Linked DNA regions of Homo sapiens: all the other regions are linked to region 1. Evidence: fine-mapped expression QTL. A gene starts in region 1. Each other region holds a variant in brackets. All regions are shown on one strand. Distances are from middle to middle.

The links. PIP is the estimated chance that this variant, and not a neighbour inherited with it, causes the effect.
Region 2: its variant is the best candidate, but not a certain one, in a credible set for the expression of CUEDC1 in whole blood (TOPMed, PIP 0.51).
Region 3: its variant is the best candidate, but not a certain one, in a credible set for the expression of CUEDC1 in whole blood (TOPMed, PIP 0.64).

What each region holds. Positions count from the first base shown.
Region 1 is chr17:57,953,863-57,956,615 of GRCh38, reverse strand. CUEDC1 (CUE domain containing 1) reads left to right here and starts at 1,204. Exons shown (of 11, transcript NM_001271875.2): 1 at 1,204-1,391. RefSeq lists a silencer at 1,280-1,349.
Region 2 is chr17:57,864,444-57,867,196 of GRCh38, reverse strand. It overlaps CUEDC1 (CUE domain containing 1), which reads left to right. Exons shown (of 11, transcript NM_001271875.2): 10 at 653-723. The coding sequence ends at 720. Among named protein-coding and RNA genes, the nearest start is that of MRPS23, 16 kb to the right of the region's middle. The variant C/T (reference allele first, on the strand shown) is at 1,403.
Region 3 is chr17:57,915,693-57,918,445 of GRCh38, reverse strand. The region is part of intron 1 of CUEDC1 (CUE domain containing 1); the gene reads left to right. It overlaps CUEDC1-AS1 (CUEDC1 antisense RNA 1), which reads right to left. Exons shown (of 2, transcript XR_001752948.2): 2 at 2,130-2,753. Among named protein-coding and RNA genes, the nearest start is that of CUEDC1-AS1, 4.9 kb to the right of the region's middle. The variant T/C (reference allele first, on the strand shown) is at 1,380.

The DNA.
Region 1 (2,753 bases):
GTTCAACATGCTAACCTAACGTTGGGCCTCCCCGAGGAGGGTGTGGTTCTGAGGTTTCTCCCCCTCCCAGTTTCCCACCTTGCTGAAGAAACTTGCCCTTGACATGCAAATGATGGAAACACATTGGTGTCTGGGGCACTTTGGTTTGTGGTTTTTACCATCAGCTGTCTCTGAGGCTGAGCGTGTCGATCTGTCTCAGCAAGGCTAGCAAATTGCAAGCGCTCAGAGGAGGGGAGAGGGGGGCTATTCCTGGGGTTCTGGGCCCAGATGGGCAAATGGGTCTGTAAGGCAGACTTTTCCAGGAGGAGGGTGCAGACCCTTTGCAAGTTGTTTGGGGACAGAGCTTAGTTTGCATCTGGCCTTCTTCACCCTCCTCAGATCCCCTAGGTAGCAGGGTGCTTGGTGGTCACCACCTGACCTAGGCTACCTACTCCCAAATTGGAGTCTGAAATGAAAGCACGTGGGAAAAGTATAGCAAAGGTCAGTTTCCCATTTATTAAACAAGTTCTTCCGTGGAAAATCTTCCCAGGGCTCAGCAGCCCTTGAAGTGATCAGGGATGCTGGGGAGGTTGGGGGAGGAGAAAATGGGAGATGGCAGGTGGTATCTGTCGGTGTGGACGAGTGATAGCTTTGATTTGCTCCCCCTTCCCACCATCTCCTGTGTCCTCAGCATTTGATTTGGTTTCCTTTCCGGGGCCCTAATTCCAGGGAGGTGCCCCTCCTCCACACCTGTGTCCCAAGCCCCAGCTGTGCGTCCTCACCCTGGGTTCCTGGCACTGACCTGGAACCTGTCGGGCAGCCCTGCTCTTAGCTCCCCGCGGAGTCTCGGAGGTCTCAGGTCTCCTCCGCCCACCCTCTCCGCAGCTGGGAGGGGCAGGATGCCCCGCACCCCGCTCTGCGCGGGAGGTCGAGGCACCCCGCTCACGCCCTCCTGCCCGCAAGCTAGGGAGTCACTGCGGCCGGGGAGGGAGGTACACGGAGGGCATTTTTCCAGCCTTCACTGGGTGCTCCCCTCTCCACCCCCGGCAACCATGTAGGTTTCCGGACCCCCAGGTCCGCTTCCCTCCTCTCTGGAAAGGGGTCGGCCATAGGGAAAGGGCCCGGGGGCGCCGCAGCCGGGCCCCCGCCCCGCCCCGCCCGCAGCCCCGCTCCTCCCCGCGCGGCCCCACTTGTGGCCCTGCCGGCAGCCGCGCAGGGACAGCTGCATTTCTCGCCGCCCGCCGCTAGGAAGCCGGCCTCGCCTCACTTTCTCCGCCTCCCCGCGCCCCAGCCGCGCCGCCGCCGCCGAGCCTGGCCCCGCCGCCACCGCTGCGGATTGCAGCCCCTCCCCCGCCCGGCCCGCGGCCCGGCCCCTGCGGCCCGCGCGGAGCGGACGCGCGTGGCGCTGCCCGGTAAGACCCCCGCGCTCCCGCGGCTCCCGCCCGGCCCCGGGCGCGGTCCTCGCCGGCGCCCCGCGCGCAATCCCGGCCGCGGCCCCGGCCCAGCGGCCCCACCTTCTCGGGACCCGTTGCCCAGGCGCCGCCGGGAGGGCCGGGCCGTCGCGAGTTTGATTCCCGGGGCTGTCGGCGCGGCTCCCCGGGAGCTCCGCGTGCGGCAGGTCCCCGCCCGCCCTTCCTTCCCGAGCCCCCACCTCATCCCGGGCCCCGGGCGCGGGGGGCGTGCGGGCATCTGGGGGGCCGGGAGCGGGGCGCGCGATTAGACCGGGGGGCGCGGGCCAGCGCCGCAGGGAAGGGAGACGAGGCCTCCCGGAGCCGGCTTCGCCCGAGTCCCCTCTCCCGCCGCTCCCCCTTTTGTGTGGGCGCCCCTCCCCGCAGTGCCCGGGCCTGGGGGCGCAGGCTGGGCGGCGACGGCAGGCGGGGGCGCCTGCTGGGAGCCGAGCGCCTTTCAGGGGGAGGGGAGCTTCGCTTCCTGCCCCCCGCCGATGTCACAGGTCGGCTCAGCCTTTTTTGGTCCCTCCCGGTCCCCTGGGAGCTGTATCTCCCGTCAGCTCGGCCAGGGAAAGTTGGGAATGCGCTGTCCCCGCCCCTGCTCGCCCGCCCCGCCGGCTCCTGTGCCCCAGGCTCTGAGCTCCAAGGGGGGCTGGTGTCAGCGTTTATTCATTCCTCCCTCTTCCTTTTCTCGGTCGCGTGGTCGCCTTACACCCAGCACTGCCCTGCCCATTTCTTTTCCCCTTAAAAAAAGTTTTAGCTCTAAGAAACGTACACTGAAATTAAATTCCTGAGACGGAATGTGTTTTAAGGGGAGGGAGGGTTTAGATTTTCCTTTTTTTGGTGGAGTAGTGGAGTAGAAGATGAGGGGACTCCCTGGGAGTTTAGAAACAAGATGCCCTGGAGGCGATAGAGGATACAAGAAGACCATCCACCGTGCTCCCCACCTGATCCGCAGTCAGCGTCTTGTAGCGAGAGGAATGAGCCTTCCCTGGGTGATCCCGCAGCACCTGAGCCACCTGGCCCAGGAGAAAGGACTCAGGGAGATGTACTGGGCCTTTCACCCCTTTTCTTTATAGCCAGCTGTGCCTGAAGGAGGTGAGGGACCCCAGGAATTCTCTCACGGAGGAAGTCATCTCACCATGTGGTTGGGCCCCTGCTGGATCAAGTGTGAAGCTGGGTCCTCTCTGTTGTTGGGGGTCAGTGCCACTGGTACCTCAGTTTGAATATGGTGCCATCTCTGGGATGGAGAGGTGCTGCTGGGAGAAACCTGGCTCGGGTCTCCAGGAAGCTGGAGCGTGTGCAGCAGGGCTGGGTGTGAAACCC
Region 2 (2,753 bases), 89 kb after region 1:
TCGACATTGCTTCCCCCTTTCTGCAACCCCTGAAAAGGGGCCCTAGCCCTACTTCCACCTAGATGTGTACCTGTAGCATGAAGTGCCAGGTACTGTTTCTGGGGAATATTCTTTTGGGTGTGAGGTGGCAGACAGGCCTGCCCCCATGGGGGACCCTCGGCCTGAGAACCAAGCACTGGGCAGCTTCAGTCTGTGGGCCCAGAGGCTTCTCAACTTTCACCCAGTCCCTTCCAAAGGCCACGTGGGCCAGAAGACTCTGCCTCAGACCCTCCTGGGCCCGCAGCTGAACCCTGATCCTCATGCCACATTCGAGGGTCAGGAGGCATCCAGAAACAAGGACTGGAAGGGCCTCAGAGGTCATCTAGATAGTCCAGCTTTTCCATCCCATTTTATAGATGAGGAAATTTGAGGCCCAAAGACGAGGGGAGAACTTGTCCAAGGTCTCAGAGCTCAGTGGTGGACCCTGGCCAGCACCTGAGTGTCCTGCTGCCTCTCTCCCTGGACCCATGCATCGTCTACCTGGGGGGATCTGCATGGGTCCCAAATGAAGGGGGCAGAGAGAGTCGGGTCAGCTCTCTTGCCCAGTCTAGGGGCCGTGCCTGAGCGAGGCCCTGCAGGGTAGAGGATGAGGCAGCTTCCCTCTCCTTTTCAGATGAAGACTTCCGGGGCAGGCGTCAGGAGGCACCCAAGGTGGAGGAAGGCCTGCGAGAAGGACAGTAAGAGGTAAGGCCTGGAGCCATAGCAACCCAGGGACTGCCCAAGGCCAGGGCCCCCCACACTATGCACCCCACATGTCCTCCCAGGTGTCCAGAGGCGCTGGGCTCAGGCAACTGGGTAGCACAGGCCCCACGTGTCTTCCCTCATAGTTGCGGCAGGGACACGGGCGTGGGAACTAGTTCATTGCATGTCTTTTTTGGTTATTTATTCATTTGACAAAAGATGAGCACACCTGCCTATGACAGATGCTGAGAACAGGAAAACAAAATCAGCTTTGACCTTGAAGAGTTTACAGTCCAGTTGAGAAGACAGTCCAGGACACACGTAGCACACTGAGAGGATGATTTAAGAAAAACTGGCTGGGCACGGTGTCCCATGCCTGTAATCCCAGCACTTTGGGAGGCCAAGGTGGGTGGATCAGCTGAGGTCAGGAGTTCGAGACCAGCCTGGCCAACATGGTGAAACCCTGTCTCTGCTAAAAATACAAAAATTAGCCTGGCGTGGTGGCAAGCGCCTGTAATCCCAGCTACTTGGGAGGCTGAGGCAGGAGAATCACTTGAATCTGGGAGGCGGAGGTGGCAGTGAGCTGAGATCGCGCCATTGCACACCAGCCTGGGCGACAAGAGTGAAACTTCATCTCAAAAAAAAAAAAAAAAGAAAAAGAAAAACTGAGGTGGTCTCAACC[C/T]GGCTGTGCACACACACAACTCTCTCCAGCCCCCTGCTTGGGTTGGGTGGGCTGGGATCTGCCACACCAGGATGAGGAAACCCTCCTGAGGCAGCGGTTTCTGGCTGAAGCCCCAGGGCTCCAAGCCATTTCTCCTCCTCGCTTCCTGTGCACCCTCTTGGGGAGAAAAAGAAAATACCAAGGCCTCCTCCAGGAGTTGGCCAAGACAGCTGTCCCTTTTCCAGCCCCCGTTTACCATGGGAGAGGGGAAGCTGCCCGGCCTTCCCCAGCCACTTGTTTGGTCCCAGTGGGCAGCATCTACAAGGCTTTCTTGAGTTGATGGTGTGGCAGGTATGGCCCTGTGTCAGACGATGGAGAAATACTCACTTGCCTCAGGATAGTCACAATGGAGGGAAACCGGGAACAAGTAAATACAAGTGCCCTCTCCTCTCTGCCTGGGCAGCTGGCCCCCACACCCACTCCACCTGACTCCCTACCACATCTCCCACCAGGCACTGCAGCCCCTTCTATTCCCCTCAGGCTTTCCTCAAACACAAAGCCGCGGCCCACTTCCCACTGTCCTGGAATGCCCAGATAGAGCCTGCCGGGGAATCGCCTCCACTGTCACCCCACGCTGCTACTATCTCCACGCCCTTCTCCTTCCTACTGGTCCCCAGGGAGAACGGGTCCTGTCCAAACCACCCCTACATCAGAAACTTGCTCATCATTCATTCATTCATTCATTCATTCATTCATTTTGAGACAGAGTCTCGCTCTGTTGCCCAGGCTGGAGTGCAGTGGCACAATCTTGGCTCATTGCAACCTTCACCTCTCAGGTTCAAGCGATTCTCCTGCCTCAGCCTCCCGAGTAGCTGGGATTATAGGCACCCACTATCTTGCCTGGCTAATTTGTTTTTGTATTTTTAGTAGAGATGGATTTTTGCCATGTGGCCAGGCTGGTTTCGAACATCTGACCCCAGGTGACCTGCCCGCCTGGACCTCCCAAAGTGCTAGGATTACAGGTGTGAGCCACCGTACCTGCACCTCATCATTTATTTCTGTCCTAGGACTTCCAGCTTGTCCCCTTCCAGCTCCTTCTGCAAGTTGACATCCTCCTCCTCCTCCCCTTAAACACCAAGGGTCCTTGAGTCTTCCCTGCCATCCTCCTTCATCCACTGCAGGCTGACAGCCCCTCCCATCACTCGGATTGACTCGGAGGTCACCCAGCAGCTCAGGGCCTTAGCATCTTCTGCATTCTTATGGTGCTCTTCCACACGCACTCCCCTGATCTCTCCTGAAGCTGCCCTCCCTTGGCTCCTGTGACCCCAGGAAGCCAGGTTCTCCTTCCTCTCTCCTGGCTCCTGTTGCTCCG
Region 3 (2,753 bases), 38 kb after region 1:
TGTCTCTTTGGTGGCTTTTATAACCCAGGGCGGGATACCAGGGTGAGGTTGGGATGACTGGGGGTAGGCCTTTCTTTTGGGAAGTGTTTAGGAGGGCCTTGGTGAGGGGAGAACTGGCAGACCCAGAGGGTTCCCGGCTGATCAGTTTTAGGAAGAAGCACAGGAAGTGGAGCTTTCAGAAGTTGATTCCCTGGAAGCCATCCATGTCTGAATACTTCTGGGAAGTCCCCAGGTTCCCTGAGGGTTTTGCACATGTACTCTGGTGGGAAGACTGTTGAGTAGCAGCCTGGATATCCTACCTAGGATTTTGCTCTGTGGACATTACAGAGCTTGTGGATCTTTGAGACTGAGACTGCTTCTCCCACCAGCTCCCTGGTAACACCTTGAATGCACGCCCCATGTTTCTTCTCAGCTCCTCTCAGTGAGACAGCAGGGGCTCACACTCTAACGATGCCACCTTGTTGAGGGGGTAAACTGAGGTCCAGAACAGGAGAGTGACTACACAGAGCAGTCCATGTACCCCACCAAAAAAGCCAGCTGGCATTCCTAGTGGAGGCATCACAAGGCAAAAAAGCCTTGGGGTGGGTCAGGAGGAGTAGTCTTCAGAGTTCAGCCTCTGCCCCTGCCTCAGTGCACGTCACCTGCATTCTCTCAGCCTCAGTGTCTCTGCCTGTTAAATGAGGCTGATGTGGCAGGTGTTGAGCCTGCTGTTCACAGGCTCTGAAGTTGGGCAGACCTATTTTTGAATCCTAGCTTTGCCACTTACTCGCTGTGTGACCTTGGGTGAGTTATTTACCTCTCTGTGCCTGTCTCCACATCAGTCAATGGGGAGAAGAAAGGCCTCTCTCTCATGGGATGGTTGAGAGGATCAATGAGACAAGTGTTAGTGTCAGGCCCACATGGCATGCTCAGTAAGTATTATTGTTATCCTTGGTTTTTGTTCCCTGTAAGAATTATAGTCAGGAAGAGACTCCGTGGAGTGAAGGCCTGGTTGAGACTCTCCAAGGGCAGGATTGTGTTGGTGCATGGCCTTGCCCCTTCGTCCCAGGATGACCACATGTGCTAAGTGGCACTTAGTATGTGTCACCTGATGAACAATGAGTGCCAGTCAAGAGGCCCTTATGACAGCCTCTGAGCCGCTGCCATCTGCTGGGCCTCTTGTTGTCATCTTCCTCCAACATTCACCCGGGGAGGCATCAAGCCACTGGCCTTGTTGCCCTGGGGGAGATGAGGCTGCCCCCACATTTCCCCATAGCCCAGTGGTTTTGAGAGCACCTGTGTGCCCTGATGGGACCTGTGGCAACCTCAGGGACCTAGTGGGACACCTGTTGCCGCCCATTCTTCTCCACTGTTCAGGTTCCCATGTCCTCCCTATTGGA[T/C]GGGCCTCAGGCGCTTAGCCTGCTCACCTTTCTCTTCTAAAGTCACCACGTCTCCATTTTCTTGTGGGCCTCTCCTAGGAGATGTTTTATGAACAGAGTCCAGTCCCCACCCCTCCATCCCCTCATCTCTTCTCACAAACTTTCCCCTGGAAGTTACTCCCTTGACCCCCTCCTCCTCCTGCTCAGAGAAGTGAATAATGAAATAAAACAGACAGTGCACTCCAGGTGGGATTTTGCTGCTTGAAGGAATCCCTTAGTCAAGCAAGGAATCCTTTTGTAAAGTAAGTGCTCACTGTGGATTTCCGTCTGGGAGTTTTTGCTTGGACTGGTTCTCGAGAGCGGGGCCCAGGCGAGTTTGTGAGCCTGGGGGTGGGCGAGGCTGCTGGCCTCCTCTCTGTGGCCTGAAAGGGCTCCCAGTGTGGCTTCTAGATCCACTGATTACCTTTCATCCTTCCGCTGTCTTCCTGTCAGGGCTCTGGTCTGCCAGCATCGATCACACTGGCCTGGGAGGTGGTGACGGGTTTGTGTTTCTCCCTGTTTTGTTCCTTTGCTTCCCCGTCGCATCTCCATGGAAACAGGTGCAGCCTTTGTGTTGCCTTTGCTTTGGGCAAATCGATGCCAAGTGGGGACTTCTCTGGACTCTCCACCCCCTCCCCTCTCTGGGATCAAAGTGGGAGGAGGGGGCAGTGCAGGGCCTGACAGGAAGCCTTTTGGGGGCCTGGAGGGCCTGGGGTGGGAGACCCCGCTGCATGGCTCCTGTCCTGGCCTGCCCTCATGCCTCAGGCATCACAAGGCCATCGGGATGGAGCAAGTGTGCTGTGATTTAGAAACACTCTCAGCCCCCCTCGGCCTTCTGCATTCTCAGAGGCAGCTGCTGGCCACCTGGGGCGGGTTGCTGGGTAGGAGTCGGAGAGCTGGCACCAGCTTCGATTCTTTGGTGGGACCTTGAGGGTGAGGCCTTTAACCTTTCCGGCCCTTGGTTTCTCCTGAGAGGTTGGAGAGGTTTTGAACTCGTGAGAAGATGAGGCTTCGGTAATATGACTCCTCTTTTACCTTAAGGAAAACCTACATCTGGGTAAACTCTGCAAAGTTTTTGTCATATGATTGTTCTATGGTGAATACTAAATTCTGTGTTTGATTCAAACGGGTGAGTTGCCTGGCAGGAAATGAAACCTTCAGCTTGGGAGCATGTCTTTAGACTGAGCTCTTGCTTATCATAACAGCCCCCTGAGGCCCCCTCCTCCCCGCCCAGCTTGTTCCGCCTTCCCAGGCTCTTAACAACCTATTAGGGAGCCTTCTGTTCCAGGCCGGAGCTCAAGTGTTGGCCCAAACAGCCGGGGGTAGCAGCAACCCTGCCTTAAGTCCCCGAGGTCC